Regions from separate parts of the Homo sapiens genome. Here region 2 is linked to region 1. Evidence: fine-mapped expression QTL. A gene starts in region 1. The other region holds a variant in brackets. All regions are shown on one strand. Distances are between the middles of the regions.

What was found. PIP is the estimated chance that this variant, and not a neighbour inherited with it, causes the effect.
Region 2: its variant is fine-mapped to the expression of SRGAP1 in testis (GTEx, PIP 0.96).

The regions. Positions count from the first base shown.
Region 1 is chr12:63,840,226-63,849,413 of GRCh38, forward strand. SRGAP1 (SLIT-ROBO Rho GTPase activating protein 1) reads left to right here and starts at 4,475. Exons shown (of 22, transcript NM_020762.4): 1 at 4,475-4,658. The coding sequence starts at 4,592. RefSeq lists silencers at 3,408-3,827, 3,888-3,947, 4,058-4,317 and enhancers at 3,480-3,981, 3,982-4,481.
Region 2 is chr12:64,126,997-64,136,184 of GRCh38, forward strand. It overlaps SRGAP1 (SLIT-ROBO Rho GTPase activating protein 1), which reads left to right. Exons shown (of 22, transcript NM_020762.4): 20 at 594-728; 21 at 865-1,204. It overlaps LOC105369798 (a long non-coding RNA gene), which reads right to left and starts at 3,736. Exons shown (of 2, transcript XR_945018.2): 1 at 3,178-3,736. The variant T/C (reference allele first, on the strand shown) is at 3,749.

The DNA.
Region 1 (9,188 bases):
AAATTGGAAAGAGTACCCACTTTGGAGACAGGCAGATGTGAACTGGAATTCTGACCCTGCCAGGCCAGACATTTACTGAATTTTCTGAGCCTCCAGATTCTCATCTGTAAAATGAGGACAATGGTGTCCGCCATGTAGGGTTCTTCTGAGAATGTGTGCAAAATTCTTACCTTAGTGGGTATATCCCATCTTCAACAACAATAAAATGGTGGCCTACTAATGGTGGCATTAATATTCAATACATTTTATTGACTGTGTATTGAACACCATAATAAAATTAAAGATGAAACATTATCTCTGATCTTTATTTATTCTTTGTAGAAATGAGGCTGGTCTTGTACTCCTGGGCTCAAGCAATCCTCCCACCTCAGCCTCCCAAAGTGTTTAGATTACAGGCATGAGCCACCACGCCCAGCCTATCTCTGATTTTTAGATAGCTTTCTATTAGGAAGAGTAAAACTAAGATAATAATTGTAAAGATAACTAATACTCACTGGGTGTATACCATGGCCTACAAGTACTTTTAAGGGTTTATCTCAGTAAGTGCTTATAACATCCCCAGGACTTAGGCATTAACCAATTTTACAGATAAGGAAAATTTGTAACCCATTTTACAAACTAAGGCCTAGAGAGAATAGTAATTTTTACCAGATCCCTTAGGAAACAGCAGATTTAGGATTCACCTCTGGGCACCCTGTCTCTGGGGCTTGTTTGCAACACACTGATTTAGGTCTAGACTCAGGCAACAATTCATTTCTAGGTGCTGCAATCTCTGCTGTCAACTTGTGCTTCCCAGGTGCAAATATGAAACAAATCCCAACAGCATCATGGATATGAATCCCATTTAGATGTGACTATGATTATCACCTAAGTAGGCTGCCTGCCTGGTCTCTCTTTCTCTATGGCTAACCCATCCTTCTACACTGCCAACAGTTATCTTTATAAAACACAAATCTGATCGTGATACTTCTCTACTTAAAAGGCTCCCTGCTGTCTGCAGAACTGTGTCCAAGATCTTAGCATGGCACAGGAGGACTCTCCCAGCTGGCCCTGACCTTCCTTCCAGCCTCTGCTTTCTCTTCACCGTACACTCTTACATAAGACAGCTCCACGTGAAATTAGGGCAGCCAGGGGTGCCATAGTATAACTGCCTGTGTGGTAAAATGAAAAAAAGACTGAAAAAAAAACTTAAAAAAAATTGGCATATTTTCTTTACATATATTCTGTTGCTATAAAGTAAAAAAAACTTGCTAAAATTAGATTTTAAAAAAGCAGTGCAATTAACAATGTCCACATACCCACATACTATCAGCTGACACATGCATATACATATATTACAATTTTTTACATTATTTTTCACCATCTAGCAGAGATCTGGTATCTTAGTGGAAGATATCTTGTCACTCTATTTGCAATTCCTCTAGAGTATAACACTCTTCCTTTTCCCTGGAATGCATCCCTTTTCCTCCCTAAAGTTGCCAGCTACTTACTATTCATCCTTTAAATCCAGCTCAAAACCACTCCTCTGCGAACTCTTACACCCAATCCTCTTATGCAGTCTGTTTTTCCATCCCCAGTGCTCCCAAGACTGGGAGTATTTCTATCTCTTACAGCATTATTGTACTGCTTGTAATTATTTATTTATACAGTAATAGACTGCATGATCCTTTCCGGCAGTCTTAATCTTTGAATCCCTAGTTCCTAGCGTGGTGTTTGGCACAGAGTTAAGAACTGGAGAGCCGATCACTGGATACATGAAAGAATGATCAAAGTCTAAAAGTCCCTACTTTCTTTAGATCTTGTGGGGAAAACACTTGAGGGGATACACCTTTGGACACATCATTTTGATAAATCAGGCCCATAATATTTGAGAATTGATTTGAAAGGAGTCAGTAAATATCTCAAGTGGTGTGAGTCAAAAAGGCTAACAGAACCAGGTGTGGTGGCTGATGCTTGTAATCCCAGTGCTTTGGGAGGCTGAGGTCGGAGGATTTTCTTTTTTTTTTTTTTTTTTTTTTTTGAGAAGGAGTCTCCCTCTGTCGCCCAGGCTGGAGTGCAGTGGTGCAATCTTGGCTCACTGCAACCTCCACCTCCTGGGTTCAAGCGATTCTCCTGCCTCCGCCTCCTGAGTAGCTGGGATTATAGGCACATGCCACCATGCCCGGCTAAGTTTTATATTTTTAGTAGAGATGGGGTTTCACCATGTTGGCCAGGCTGGTCTCGGACTCTTGACCTTGTGATCTGCCCACCTCGGCCTCCCAAAGTGCTGGGATTACTGGTGTAAACCACCGTGCCCAGCCAGAATCTTTTGAGGCCAGGAGTTTGAGACCAGCCTGGGCCATAGAGCAAGGCTTCATCTCTACAAAAAAGTAAAAATAATAAAAAAAAATTTAAAAGGCTGGCAAGGATGGATTTAAAGTACTTAACACAACACCTGAACCATGCAAAGATGGCAAGGTAAATTCTTCGTTATATTGTTCAAAAAGAGACTAGAGTTTGAGACCAGCCTGGACAACATAGGGAGACCCCCGTCTGTACTAAAATGAAAACAAACAAACAAATAAAATAAAAAGAGACTAGACACGATAGATCTTGTAAAAGGTATCTATTAAAAACGTGGCCGGGCGCCGTGGCTCACACCTGTAATCCTACCACTTTGGGAGGCCGAGGTGAGCGGATCACTTGAGGTCAGGAGTTCAAGACCAGCCTGACCAACATGGCAAAACCCTGTTTCTACTAAAGATACAAAAATTACCCAGGCACGGTGGCGGGCGCCTGTAGTCACACCTACTCTGGAGGCTGAGCCAGGAGAATCACTTGAACCCGGGAGGCGGAGGTTGCAGTGAGCGGAGCTCGTGCCCCTGCACTCCAGCCTGGGCGAGAGTGAGACCCCGTCTCAAAAAAAACCCCCAAAAAACAAAATCAAAAAACAAAAACAAAAACAACCGTAAAAGTACTAAGTGCAATGTAGTGTCCTGTGTTGGATCTTGGAACAGAAAAAATGACACTAGTCGAAAAAATTGGTAAAATTGGAATAAAATCTGGAGTTTAGTAAATAAATAAGCTAACAACGCCGTTAAGTGTGACGTGTTTCCATACCATCGCTTTCCTACCATCCTAGCTTCCCTATCTACTGTAGGAATAGAGGATATGGTGTTCAAGGTGGGTGTTTTTCTCCGCCTCGATTGAAGAGCTTCGCGCTCTTTGGATTAACAGCCAGGTCATTCACAATTCAGTGTTCAGTTTTTCTATTGGGGTCCAGCGTCTCGGAGTAACATCCCTTTGTGTCATGGATACATCCAACTCTGGACTTCCCCATTAGATTCTGGCAAAAGCCCCACCAGAGCCCCCGCCAGAGCCAGAAGGCGGTCCCTCAGGTCAGGAAGGGGTTTTCCTGCCGCCGGAGCCGCGACCTCGGCTAGCGGTGGAGCGGGGCTTCGGCGGAGGGAGGTGCGGGGCCTCGGCGGAGGGAGGTGCCGGGGGCGCCGCCCACGGCCTCCTGGGCTCGGCGCGCGGGGCCGGGCTGCGGTTGGCCACAAGAGGCATCCATCTTCCCGGACCAGCCAGGCGTTTCCTAGCGGAGCAGGGGCGGGAGCTTGGACGGAGAAGGGCACAGGCCGGAGCGCGGTCCGCTCCCGCGAGCCTGGCCCCGCCTGGCGGAGCCCCGAGGAGCCACCGCCCGCAGATCGCTAGCCGGGCGCCCGCGAGGCGCGAGCCGTGTGCGCACCCTCAACTTTGCTGCCGCCGGGGGCGCGGCTCCCGCGTGCGTGTGCGAGTGTGCCTGTCACTAGCGGCCTCCTGGGGGCAGCAGCGGAAAGGGGGACGCAGAGAAAGGCAGCCTCGGCGCACCGCGGCCAGGGAGGCAGAGGCCCCTCGCGGCGCCGGCTCTGGAGACCTAAACTCCGCCGGGGCTGTGCCCAGGGCGCGTCTGAGCGTCGCCGCCTTCACCCTCTCAGCAGCAGCGGGGACTCGCGTCAGGACTGCGATTCCTTTCGCCTGCCGAGCTGTAGCGGCAGTGTCTGCGGGCAGAGGAGCGGCGGCCGTGGCAGCAGCATCCCCAGCCCGGGCGGGACCCTTGAGCGCCGGAGCCGACAGCTGGAGGCAGGAAGGGAGGGTTGTGGCGCCCGAGCTGGGCGCGTTCCCAGCGCCTGCCCTCCGCCGCTGGCCCTGTCCCGGGCGCCCGGTGCGGGTCTCGAACAATGGTGCGGAGCGCCGGCGCGAGCCCCGCGCCCGCCCAGCGGCCGTAGAGGAAGTGGCCGGGCTCCCGGCGAGGTGGGCAGGGAGACGTCCCCCGCCACTCGCTGGCTGGAGTTTGCCTGCGCGTCCGGCCTCTCCCCCGGGGATCCCCTGGGATTACCGACGGAGCTCAATTTCGAGAGTATGGTGCCAGCGCCCGGGCTAATCTAGTCCTCTCTACTCGCTCTTTTTCCCCTCCTCCTCCTACTTCTCCTCTCCCTCCTCCCTTCCCTCGGGTCGGCGCTGCCTCTGGATTGCCTGCGTGTGGGAGTACAACTCTGCCTCTCCAAGGAGAACGGGTTGTGACCACTGAACAAAACTTGCCCATTGAAAGCAAACCCGGAACAGCTGGATAATGTCCACCCCGAGCCGATTCAAGAAGGACAAAGAGATCATAGCCGAGTATGAAAGTCAAGTCAAAGGTAAGGATGGGAGCGGCTGCCTTGCTCCTTTTGTGTGCCTTCTTGTCATTGTGCTCGTGGAGTTGCGTATCTAACTTGGTGTCTGCGTGGGAGGAAGGTGGTGAGGGGACAGCTCGAGCCCTGTCTGAGCCACCTGGGCTTCCTACAAGCCAGTTAGTTCCCAGTTGCAATCCCAGTCCCGTCAAACCCACGGGGAGCTGGAAACTGGGTGACTTCCCCCGCCAGCTGCCAGCCCGCATCTCTAATGGGGAGAGAACTGGCTTTAACTTAACCACCTTCAGCTGGGCAACTTATGTGGGAAGCAGGCAGCAGTGGAGGATCCTGTCCAGCTATTATTATCACCATCATTATTCTTTTTAAATGGTAGGATTGTCACTACGTAATTTTTTTACGGAATGATTTTTGTAAAGTCTGTGAACCCCAAGCGGTCTACAGCCTCATTGAGTGCAGGCTATTTCAGATATTTACACCACTCACCTATTTACACCGCTCACAATTTATTAGGGCGAGACCCCTTTTATTAAATAGCTCCCTAAAAGCCTGGCAGTTAAACGAAGCAGTGACTAGTGGAATCTGACTCTTCCTTTATAATGGGCCAGAATTCATTGCCATCTTTCACACTCACATGGGAATATTGCTTTATCATTTTCTGGAAGCCACTTGCATGTAAAATGAAGGTTTGAATATTTGAGTAGTAGTTTCAGTCCATTTACATTGTCAACTAATGAAGGAAACCTAATTAAGGCTGATTATTTTTACTTTCTATGCCTTGTGATTAAAAATATATATATTTTCTCTCCAATACAAGTATTTTGTTTTGTTACTGAAGTGTTTCGTAAACATATGTGTTACTTGAATTTTTTCCTCCTCTTTCCTGAGGTCTCAGGAGTAGCTTTCCTGATTGAGACAATGGATGGAATGTTGGGACCGCCACTGTTCTTTGACACATTCAATGCAAAGTTCATAAAGATTGCTATGTATACACCTGTGTTTATCTATGCACAGTCTTATGAAAGGGCTACGGAGAGAGGCATTACTGTACTTCCCTTGAGCAAGGGAGGAGCAGCCTGAGTGTTCTTTTGTGTGGTCAAGTTGTAAAAATGCCTGGAGTCCTGTGAGAGGACCTGGTGGAGAAATCCTGTATCATCCAGTGTGAATACAGACCAACTCATTGTGGACACTGCAGACACAATATGCAAGATAACTTAGGTTATCTTTAGGAGGACCCCTATAATGGAGTTATCTATAGGCTGACCCCTATAATGTGTTCAGGAGACACAGATTTTTGTCTGCTTGGAATTGTGATAATTTATACTTACAGGAACTTGTTTCATTGCTATGGAAGTTGTGTTAGCAGATAAGTAATTATTTTCTTAGAGCCAGGTAAACTTTCTAATGAGACTAACCTTTCTTTTTTCAGTGAGTCCAACATAGCCTAAAACCTTTCATTCCAGGGCAGTACTCTTGTTCACAACCACCATTTCTCTGTGCAGTTTTTCCACATGGCTCTTTGTGGCAGGTCTTCAAGGGGTGGCGGTCTGGTTTTTCTGCCGCCTAGAGCACTAATTGGCAAATGCACTTCCAAATGTTGATTTCTTTATGTTTGCTGTAAGGTCACTTGCCAGTGATCAAGTCCTTATTTGAAAATCAGCGAAATGGGATGTGTTGCAATGTGTCTATCAAATTCAAACGGAAGAAAAATCATGAACATGGTGAAAATCACATTTGGAGCTAAGTCTGTCCCACAGAGAATGACCTTCTCCCTATTTCCTTCAACACTTCTTCCTTCCACACACCCACGAGTCCCTAGGCTGCTTTAGGAGTCTTCACTGCACCTGCCCTGCCCTGAGTCCAGGCTTTACCTCCTCCTGCAGTACCTACACATCCAGTATCTAACCTAGATCACTACATCCATACACAAACATGGGAATAAGGGAATATCATGGAGTCAGATCATATACGCATTAAATGGCACAAATTCACCTGGTACTTCTAGGCAAATCAAGAAGAGAGTGGGAGACAAATAACAGATAAATAGTACATGAGGCCAGCTGTCCAATGCAGGGAGAGTAGGCCCCTTAGTAAGGACAGCATGGGAGACAAGACTGGTTTTTCTGTACCCTCGCAGAGTGCTAGTCTGTTATTTACAGGTATGTGTTTTGGGATCAGGTGCAGTGGTGCATGCCTGTAATCTCCGCATTTCAGGAGGCTGAGGCAGGCGGATCACTTGGGGTTAGGGGTTCAAGACCAGCCTGGCCAACATTTTGGTAGAGAAACCACATCTTTACCAAAAAATACAAAAATTAGCTAGGTGTGGTGGCACACACCTGTGGTCCCAGTGTGCCTGTGGTTCCACTTGAACCCAGGAGGCAGAGGTTACAGTGAGCCGAAATCACATCACTGCACTCCAGTCTGGGTGACAGAGTGAGACTCTGTCTAATAAATAAATAAATAAATAAAGGTATATGTATTTGGAACAAACTACTTTTTAAATTACAGTCAGCAACTTTATCTGATGATAAAAAAAAATTCTGTTCTATTGCTAAAGGAAAACCTGACTGTGTGGGACTCATTAAGACATAAGTCTAGGCCAGGCACGGTGGCTCACGCCTGTAATCCCAGCACTTTGGGAGACCGAGGTGGGCGGATCACTTGAGGCCGAGACCAGCCTGGCCAACATGGTGAAACCCTGTCCCTACTAAAAATACAAAAATTAGCCGGACATGGTGGTGCATGCCTGTAGTCCCAGCTACCCTGGAGGCTGAGTCAGGAGAATTGCTTGAACCCGGGAGGCAGAAGTTGCAGTGAGCTGAAATTGCGCCACTGCACTCCAGCCTGGCTGACAGAGTGAGACTCTGTCTCAAGAAAAACACAATGAATAAACATACATATTGGACTCTATAGGTGACTTAGGTGTGTGGGTGATTTCAAGAGTCATTTTGATTATATGTATTTTTTTTTCTACCTTCTAACTTAGAACCTAACACTCTAGAATATTTTCCCCTGTTACTCTCTCCCATTTTCCCTAATAACAACTTTATTTATCTCAGAATTTTTGAGATAATGTTTTGACCTAAAGGAATGACTTCAGATATGGAATTTTTTTATTCTTTAATTTTTATTTTATATATATATATATATAAAAGGAGTATCGGTCTGCTGCCCAGGCCAGAGTGCAGTGGCGTGGTCTCGGCTCAGTGCAACCTCCACCTCCTGGGTTCAAGTGATTCTCCTGCCTCAGCCTCTGGAGTAGTTGGAATTATATACACGCACCACCACGCCCAGTTAATTTTTGTATTTTTAGTAGAGATGGGGTTTCGACATGTTGGCCAGGCTGGTCTCGAACTCCTGACCTCAGGTGATCCACCTGCCTCTGCCTCCACCTCCCAAAGTGCTGGGATTACAGGCATGAGCCACTGCACCCGGCCCAGATATGGAATTTTGCCACTGTGGCTGCCTGCACAGGTTTTGGGAACAGACTTCATGGGGCTATTCTTAACTGTGAAAAGAACCATTCCTGGTGATAATTCGTAATTTTATGTATAAGATCATAGATGTATCTAGTTGTGTGTATCATTTTGGGCAAGTCACTTAGCCTTTCTCTGGGTTTCGGTTTTCTTATCTATAAGATAAGGAGTTGGAATTCTCTTCATCTTAAGTGTCTTTTTTTTTTCTTTTTGAGACAGAGTCTCACTCTGTCACCCAAGCTGGAGTGCAGTGACACGATCTCTGCTCTCTGAAGCCTCTGCCTTCCGGTTTCAAGTGATTCTCATGCCTCAGCCTCCTGAGTAGCTGGAAATACAAGCGTGCACCACCATGCCTGACTAATTTTTGTAATCCTAAGTGTCTTTGAATCTAATTGAAGATGTCATATCAGTTCATATTAATTGCCTCATAAAATTTTCAAGCTTTTAAAGTTTTCAGTTGGCTGCTCTGTTTTGTGGAGAATCATTTTTGCTTTCACTTTTTTTTCATAAGTTCATGGACAGTGTATAAATTGAGTTTTTGGAGAATTAAAATAGAATACAATAAAGAATACAGAAAAAACAGTAATCAAAACCACATGCAGAGAAATGTAGCACAGAATTGTAAGACAGAAGAATCAGGAATGATACAAGTGGTTAAACAGTGGATAGGTTTAAATGGGGGACAAAAGGGGACCCCAGGCAACAGTTTTAAAGAATGAATTGAACATTTCATGCCTCTTGGTCAAATTCTCAAAGACTTAGAATTAAGAGAAATAAATCTCTTGTTTGAATAGGCCATTAGAAAGCAAGCATGTCTGGAAAAGTGTATGAAACCCAAACCAGTTGACTATGCTATTTGTTAGCATCTCTGGCAAATAGCGTAGCAGTGGAAGGGATTGAATAATTGGCTAGCAGAAGGTTTTGAATTATCTGTGGACTTTAGTGATCTATGTAATTCTTGTATTCTGCAGCAAAAATATTGTGGAGCTACACATATGGGAACAATAAAGACTCATAAAGACATGTTTTATGAAGTGGAACTTATAGATGAGAGGCTGTGTTT
Region 2 (9,188 bases), 290 kb after region 1:
TACGCAAATACTTGTTTACACCATTGTGTTACAACTGCCTGTAGCATTCAGTACAGTAACATGCTGTGCAGGTTTGTAGCCTAGGAGCAATAGGCTCCACCATGTAGCCTAGGTGTGCAATAGGCTCTACCATCTAGGTTTGTGTAAGTGCACTCTATGATGTTCCCACAATGATGAGATTGCTTGACAACGCATTTCTCAGAACGTATCCTCGCCGTTAAGCAACACGTGACTGTAGTATAAATGCCATACATATGTATGTACACAATCACAGATATGTATCCCAGGCATAGAATAGAAGATGGAGGAGGATATTTCTTAAAATTCTAACAGTAGTTGTCTCTGGATGTTATATTATGGGTGATTATTTCAGTCTTTTTTGTATAACTGAAATTGCTGTTGTACCTGTAATGAAATTGTATTGCTTTTATAATGAAAAGAGAAAAGTTATTTTAATAAAAGAAGGGCTTTCATGCATAATGCTATTTCATACATAAATGCTATCACGTAAATTTTCATCTCCACTCATCTAGCAAATTTTGTAAAATTTGTAAATCTAGTAAATTTTGTCTCCATTCCTCTTACTGCTTCAGGGATGATACGTTTTCAGACACTCTGAGCCAAAAAGCCGACAGTGAGGCCAGCAGTGGGCCAGTCACGGAAGACAAGTCCTCATCCAAGGACATGAACTCCCCGACAGACCGTCATCCTGACGGCTATTTAGCCAGGTAAGTAGAGCCTGGGAATCAGGCCCCTAAGCCTCCGCTCCTCCTGGGGCCATGAGGAGCCACTGCACCTCAGCCTTGCAGTACTGCCCGGTGTGATAAGCTCTTCTGTTTTCTCCCTGTTTCTGTGAATGTCTAGGCAACGAAAAAGAGGAGAGCCACCCCCTCCAGTAAGGCGTCCTGGCAGGACCAGTGATGGCCATTGCCCGCTCCACCCTCCACATGCCCTTTCTAACTCCTCAGTTGACCTAGGGTCCCCAAGCCTTGCCAGTCACCCCCGGGGCCTGCTGCAGAACCGTGGCCTCAACAATGACAGTCCTGAGCGGAGGCGCAGGCCTGGCCATGGCAGCCTGACCAACATCAGCCGGCACGACTCCCTCAAGAAGATCGACAGCCCTCCCATTAGAAGGTCCACGTCATCAGGGCAATACACGGGCTTCAATGACCACAAGCCACTGGACCCAGAGACAATTGCTCAGGTACGATGCTTTTAATTACATATTGCATTTTAAGTACCTAAGTGTGATGTAGGAGGTGTGAAAGATTTACTTTATTTACTTTTTACTTTATTTACTTTATATTTCTGTATAGAACCAACTAAAGAAAACAGAAACAAAACCAGCTCATTCTTTAACTTAGGCCCTGAGTCTTTTTTGAACAATTTGTTACTGAAAGGGCCCAAAGGTTCATAGTGATTTAAACAGAAACATGACAAAAACGTAGGACCAGGACACTCAAACCTATCATTGTGAATAGCCAGAAAAACTTTGAAAAAGAAGAATGGGAAAGCAGTGGCCCTGCCAGATCCTAAATGCATTCTAAAGCTAGTAAAACAGACAGATGGATGAAACAGAATGGAGAGCCCAGAAACAGAAAAACCTTAAAACAGTAGTCCCTCCTTATCTGCAGGGCATATGTTTCAAGACCCCCAGTGGATGCCTGAAGCCACAGATAGTGCAAACCCCTACTGTATATGATAAAGATGGCACTTTCAACTTAGAAAAGATGAGACCTAATAAATAATGTGATCAATAATAGATAGATATTTGAAGAACAAGTCTGGATCCTATGTACCTCCTGAACACATTCAGGTCTTTGCTTCCCAACAGTGACTGCAGAGGGGCTGTGTAGTTTTCTTCTAATGACTAAAATTGACCAAGTAAAAGGGAAACAATACTAATAAATTTGCCCATCATTCTACCATTTTTCCCTCTGGTTCTGGCTCTTTTCACAGCACAGGCCATGAGAACATATGTTCGTAGGCCTAGTGGGTGGCTTACACCTGTAATCCCAACACTTTAGGAGGCTGAGGCAAGAAGATAGCTTGAGGTTAGGAGTTTGAGACAAGCCTGGTCAATATAGCAAAATCCCGTGTCTAAAAAAAAAAATTTTTTTTTAATTACCTAGGTATATTAGGATTCTCTAGAGGGACAGAATTAATGGAATATATATACATATAAAGGGGAGTTTATTAAGTATTAACTCACACAATCACAGAGTCCCACAATAGGCCATCTGCAGGCTGAGGAGCAAGGAGAGCCAGTCCAAGTTCCAAAACTGAAGAACTTGGAGTCTGATGTTCAAGGGCAGGAAGCATACAGCACGGGAGGAAGACGTAGGCTGGGAGGCTAGGCCAGTCTAACCTTTTCATGTTTTTCTGCCTGCTTTATGTTCACTGGCAGTTAATTAGATGGTGCCCATCCAGATTAAGGGTGGGTCTGCCTTCCCCAGCCCACTGACTCAAATGTTAATTTCCTCTGGCAACCCCCTCACAGACACACCCAGGAGTAACACTTTGCATCCTTCAATCCAATCAAGTTGACACTCAGTATTAACCATCACAAGTCTACCCCTTGTCAACTTGAACCCATAAACATCTCCTGAGATCGTACATAATCTTCAAATAAAAACAATAATGTCATAATTACGCCTAACATGATACAACTGTCCTTTCCTATAACCGGAAACACACCAATCCCCAACCCAAATGCTATTACATAAAGTTAACAATACTTAAATGCTGATAGGAAGTCAATATAATCTTATGTCACATGCTAAAGGAAAAAGGAAATAAAATGAAGATATTTTCCTAGTACAAGTGTATACATGCACAAACATGTTTTTAACGAAAGAAGGAAATACTCATGACAATTACAGTCCCTGTTTCCACGTGGTCATAGCTGGTATTGATGACTACCTTCTACTACCCATTCCGTATTCCCTTTGCCTTCAGCAAGCACCTCAGCAGGTCGTGGTTGTTGTTGTTGTTGTTGTTGTTGTTGTTGTTTTCCTGGCGGAGTGACCCAAACCTTCATTCCTGAAGGGTCTGGGCCATTTGTAGTCCTGCCTGGATTGGGCTATTGTAGTTTCCCATTGACCTTAATCACAGAGCGTGGTAATACTAAGAAACGCCCTAATGGATCTCCTGTATTCCATGCACACTCTTTTTTACCTGCATCGTGGAGTAGTCGACTGATTTCATCTTGATAGTCTGAGTCAGTCACCTTAGCCAACACTGTAACTCCCTTCTTAGTCTGTTGCCTTAAAGGTAGGAGGAGCCCAAAGTGTCCAGGTGGCAATCTTAACTCAATGGCATTGTTGCTGTGTCTCCTGGTGGCACATTCCTCCCTCTGGAACTGAGACCTCTAGGCCAGCAGAACATAATGTCGCGGGAACAGGAAGTAAAAATGTTGCTAGGGGGTCACTAGGGATAATGATGAATGGTGCCACTTCCACTTCCACCTCTTGATTCCTGGACCCGTGAATCCTGGCTATGGGAGAAACTGCACCATGTATTGGACACAGATTCAGAGCATACACAGCCTTCTGGGGAACTTTGCCCCAGCCCTGCAAAGTATTGTCACCTAGTTGGTGTTGCAATTGTGACATCACAAGACCAATCCACCATTCTGTCAATCCAGCTGCTTCAGGATGATAGGGAGCATGGTAAGACCCATGAATTCCATGAGCATGAGCCCACTGCCACTCTTCTTTAGCCATAAAGTAAGTGCCTTGGTCAGAGG[T/C]AATGCTGTGTGGAATACCATCATGGTGGATAAGGCATTCCATGAGTCACAGATGGTAGTCTTGGCAGAAGCATTGTGTGCAGGATAGGCAAACCCATATCCGGAGTAACTGTCTATTCCAGTGAGGACAAACCTCTGCCCTTTTCATGATGGAAGAGGTCCAGTGTAATCAACCTGCCACCAGGTAGCTGGCTGATCACCCTGAGGAATGGTGCCATATCGAGGGCTGTGTTGGCTTCTGCTGCTGGCAAATTGAGCACTAAGCAGTGGCCATAGCCAGGTCAGCCTTGGTGAGTGGAAGTCCATGTTGCTGAGCCCATGAGTAACCTCCATCCCTGCCACTATGGCCACTTTGTTCATGGGCCCATTGAGCAAGAACAGGGGTGGCTGGGGAAAGAGGCTGAATGGTGTCCACAGAATGGCTCATCCTATCCACTTGATTATCAAAATCCTCCTCTGCTGAGGTCACCCGTTGGTGAGTACTCACATGGTATACAAATATCTTCACAGTTTTTGACCACTCAGAGAGGTCCATCCACATACCTCTTCCACAAATTTGTCACCAATTTTGCAATCATACTTCTTCTAAGTCCCTGACCATCCAGCCAAACCATTGGCTACAGTCCACGAATCAGTGTATAATCACACATCTGGCCATTCCTCCTTCCATGCAAAGTGCACAGCCAGGTGCACTGCTCGAAGTTCTGCCCACTGGGAAAGATTCCCTTCACCACTGTCCTTCAGGGATGTCCTAGAAAGGGGCTGTAGTGCTGCAGCTGTCCACTTTCGGGTGGTGCCTGCATATCATGCAGAACCGTCTGTGAACCAGGCCCTAGTCTTCTCTTCCTCTGTCAAGTGATCATAGGGAACTCCCCATGAGGCCATCAGTGCAGCCTGGGCATTTGAGCCACTTCCTCATGTAACTTATGCCTTCAGGAGTTGCATGAGCTCGATCACATATATACCACTTCCATTTGATGATGGAATGCTGCTGTGCACGACCCGCTTTATGGCTAGATGTGTCAGAAAGCACCCAGTTCATAATAGGCAGTTCAGGTTGCATGGTGACTTGATGACCCATGGTCAAACGTTCAGTTTCCACCAAAGCCCAGTAACAGGCCAAGAGCTGTCTCTCAAAAGGAGAGTAGTTGGCCAGGCGCAGTGGCTCATGCCTGTAATCCCAGCACTTTGGGAAGCCAAGGCGGGTAGATCACGAGGTCAGGAGTTCAAGACCAGCCTGACCAATATGGTGAAACCCGATCTCTACTAAAAATGCAAAAATTAGCCAAGTGTGGTGGCACACGCCTGTAGTCCCAACTACTCGGGAGGTTGAGGCAGAAGAATCATTTGAACCAGAGAGGTGACGTTGCAGTGAGCCAAGATCACGCCACTGCACTCCAGCCTGGGTGACAGACAGAGACTCCATCTCAAAAAGAAAAGGAGAGCAGTTATCTGCAGAAGAAGGCAGGGCCTTGCTCCAAAATCCTAGAGGCCTCCGCTGTGATTCACCTATGGGGGCCTGCCAAAGGCTCTAAACAGCATCCCTATCTGCCACTGACACCTCAAGCACCATTGGATCTGATGGGTCATATGGCCCAAGTGGCAGAGCAGCTTGCACAGCAGCCTGGACCTGTTGCAGAGCCTTCTCCTGTTCTGGACCCCACTCAAAACTGGCAGCCTTTTGAGTCACTCGATAAATGGGCCAGAGTAACACACCCAAAAGAGGAACGTGTTGCCTCCAAAATCCAAATAGGCCCACTAGGCGTTGTGCCTCTTTCTTGTTTGCAGGAGGGGCCAAACGCAGCAACTTATCCTTCATCTTAGAAGGAATATCTTGATAGGCCCCACACCACTGGACCTCTAAAAATTTTACTGAGGTAGAAGGTCCCTGAATTTTAGTCAGATTTATTTCCCATCCTCTAGCACACAAATGTCTCACCAATAAGTCCAGTGTGTTTGCTACTTCTTGCTCACTGGATCCAGTCAGCATAATGTCATCAATGTAATGGACCAGTGTAATATCTTGCGGAAGCAAAAAGCAATCAAGGTCTCTCCGAGTAAGATTATGACACAAAGCCAGAGAGTTGCTATACCCCTGAGGTAGGACAGTAAAGGTATATTGCTGGCCTTGCCAGCTGAAAGCAAATTACTTCTGGTGGGCCTTATGGACAAGAATGGAGAAAAAGGCATTTTCCAAGTCAGTGGCTCCAATCCACATACCAGGAGATGTGTTAATTTGCTCAAGCAATGAAACCACATCTGGTACAGCAGCTGCACTTGGAGTCACCACTTGGTTAAGCTTACAATAATCCACTGTCATTCTCCAGAATCCATCTGTCTTCTGCACAGGCCAAATGGGAGAGTTGAATGAGGATGTGGTGGGAATCACCACCCCTGCATCTTTCAAGTCCTTGATGGTGGCATTAATCTCTACAGTCCCTCCAGGGATGCAATATTGTTTTTAATTTACTATTTTTCTAGGTAAAGCCTGCTCTAATGGCTTCCATTTGGCCTTTCCCACCATAATAGCCCCCACCCTACCAGTCCAGAGCCAATGTGGGGGTTCTGCCAGCTGCTAAGTATGTCTGTGCCAATTATGCATTCTGGCACTGGGGAAATGACCACAGGAGAAGTCTGGGGACCCATTAGACTCACTGTAAGTCAGACCTGAGCTAAAACTCCATTAATTACCTGACCTCCACAAGCCACTACTTTAACTGGAGCACCACAACGACATTTTGGGTCCCCTGGAATCAGTGTCAGCTCAGAGCCAGTGTCCATTAGTCCCCAAAATGTCTGATCATTTCCCTTTCCCCATTACACAGTTACCCTGGTAAAAGGCTGGAGGTCCCCTTGGGGAAGGATGGGATAAAGATTCACTGCATAAATTGTCAGTAATATAGCGGGGTCCTTCCTCAAAGGGACCTGGCCTCCTCTTCATTCAAGGGGTTCTGGGTCTGTAAACTGGGTCAAGTCTGGAAATTGATTGAGGGGCCATGATTCTCTGTTTTCATAATTCAAATTAGTCTTTTGTCCATCCAACCTAGAAGTTTTCTGCTTGTGTAAATTAAGTAGGAATGCAGTAGGCTTCCTATCAATTTCACTTTTAGGAACAACGTGATTAATTAGCCAATGCCAGAGTTCTACACGAGTCAGACTATTCTGCTTGCTGCTTTGCCTCTGCTGTGCATTACTGTAGCTATGCCCACCTTGCCTTTGATGATTGAGTGTCGCCTTGCCTTTGATGATTGAGTGTTGCCACTTGGCTCCTGCTACCTTGGGATCCAATTATCTCCATTGTATTTAAATTTTGTAGTTGAGTGACTGTGGTTCCCACCGTTAGATCTGACATACAGAGAACAGCAATTACAGGGCTCTTCAAAGATGCAAGTGCTGGCCAAGTGCGGTGGCTCATGCCTATAATCTCAGCACTTTGGGAGGCCAAGGCAGGCAGATCACGGGGTCAGGAGATTGAGACCATCCTGGCTAACATGGTGAAACCCCGTCTCTACTAAAAATCTAAAAAATTAGCTGGGAGTGGTGGTGGGTGCCTGTAGTCCCAGCTACTTGGGAGGCTGAGGCAGGAGAATGGCGTGAACCCGGGAGGCAGAGCTTGCAGTGAGCCAAGATTGCGCCACTGCACTCTAGCCTGAGCGACACAGCAAGACTCCATCTCAAAAAAAAAAAAAAAGATGCAAGTGCTGCTCTCACAAATCTGTTTTGCAAGGCATTGGTCAAGGACTCTCCCAGCTGGGATGAGTAAGTCTAAAGTGACTAATCCACTCCACCATCCCAATCTCCCTAAGCCTTTGGATCCCTTCCTCTACATTAAACCAAGGGAGAGCAGGCATTTTCAGCTCACTCACAGTGCTCACAGTGGGCCATCTTTCAATCCATATTTCAGTTAACCAAGCAAATAAACTATTAGAACCTTTTTTAACTCCCCGAGCTGCAACATTAAATGCAGAGCTCCTACTTAATGGGCCCAAATCAATAAATTCAGCCTGATCTGACTCTATGTTCCATCTACCATTATCCCACACCATTAATATCCATTCCCATGCCTGTTATCCAGATTTCTATTTATATAAATTAGAAAACTCAAGCAGTTCTTTTCTAGTGTGGCACACCTCTTCATGGGTCACACTCTCAACCTCACCTCCAGGGGCCTGCCGGGATATTAGTCTAGTTACAGGTCTAGAAGCAAACAGAAGTGTTGGAGGTGGCTCCTGAGGAGAGTCAACATTATCTTGCCTGGCAGCTGCCTCATGGGAGGCCATCACCATTGCCTCAGGCAGCACAGGGTTTATCTCCTCAGACAAAGGTGGAAAGGCTGATGGCAGCATGGGTCAGGGAGGGGATGTTGCCGCTACTGGGGATAGGGAAGCTGTTTCTTCTGGCAAAAAAGGTTCATCAGGGTTTACAAACTCAGTGCCCCCAGCTTCATCAGGGTCCTCCCACACATCCCCATTCCAAGTTGCAGGGTCCCATTCTTTTCTAATCAATGCCCTCACTTTAACAGTAGACACCTGGTGAGGCTGTGCATGTATCTTTCATTGCAGGTCAGCGACTTGCATAAGAACTCGTGTCTGGTTCTCCATAATTTTAGTTCTTTATCTGTGGGAGATAAGACTCACACTCAGGGCAGTCTTAGCAGATTTGAGGTTCAGTATCTGCTTCTGAAGCCAGGAGATAGAATCCTTGAGTTCATCATTTTTTTTCATCACTTTGTCCACTGAACTTAGGAACAACCAACCAGCTTCACTATGTTCCTTGGTTCTCTACATAATACTCCATACAAATGTATTATGTACGGAGTCACTAAACTCCTTGCCTCTCACGAGCGATGAATCAGGAGTGTCAAATGCACGTATTTTGCATAACTCTCTAAACAGTTCACACCAAGAACTATCAGTGTTCTCCATCCTATTAGAAGTAAAGTCCTTAGTATTTTTTGGTCTAATCATATAAAGCAGAAGCCCCAAAATCAATGAAAGAACTCCATCCTTAATATTCTGTCCCTCTAGAACCACTCCTGGTACCAAAACCTGTATTAGTCAGGGCTCTCTGGAGGTACAGAATTAATGGAATACATATACATATAAAGGTGAGTTTATTATTAACTCACACAATCACAAGGTCCCACAATAAGCCGTCTGCAGGCTGAGGAGCAAGGAGTCGGTCCAAGTTCCAAAACTGAAGAACTTGGAGTCTGATGTTTAAGAGCAGGAAGCATCCAGCATGGGAGAAAGATGTAGGCTGGGAGGCTAGGCCAGTCTAACCTTTTCACGTTCTTCTGTTTGCTTTATATTCGCTGGCATCTGATTAGATGGTGCCCATCCAGATTAGGGGTAGGTCTGCCTTCCCCAGCCCACTAACTCCAATGTTAATGTCCTTTGGCAACACCCTCACAGATACACCCAGGATTAATACTTCGCAT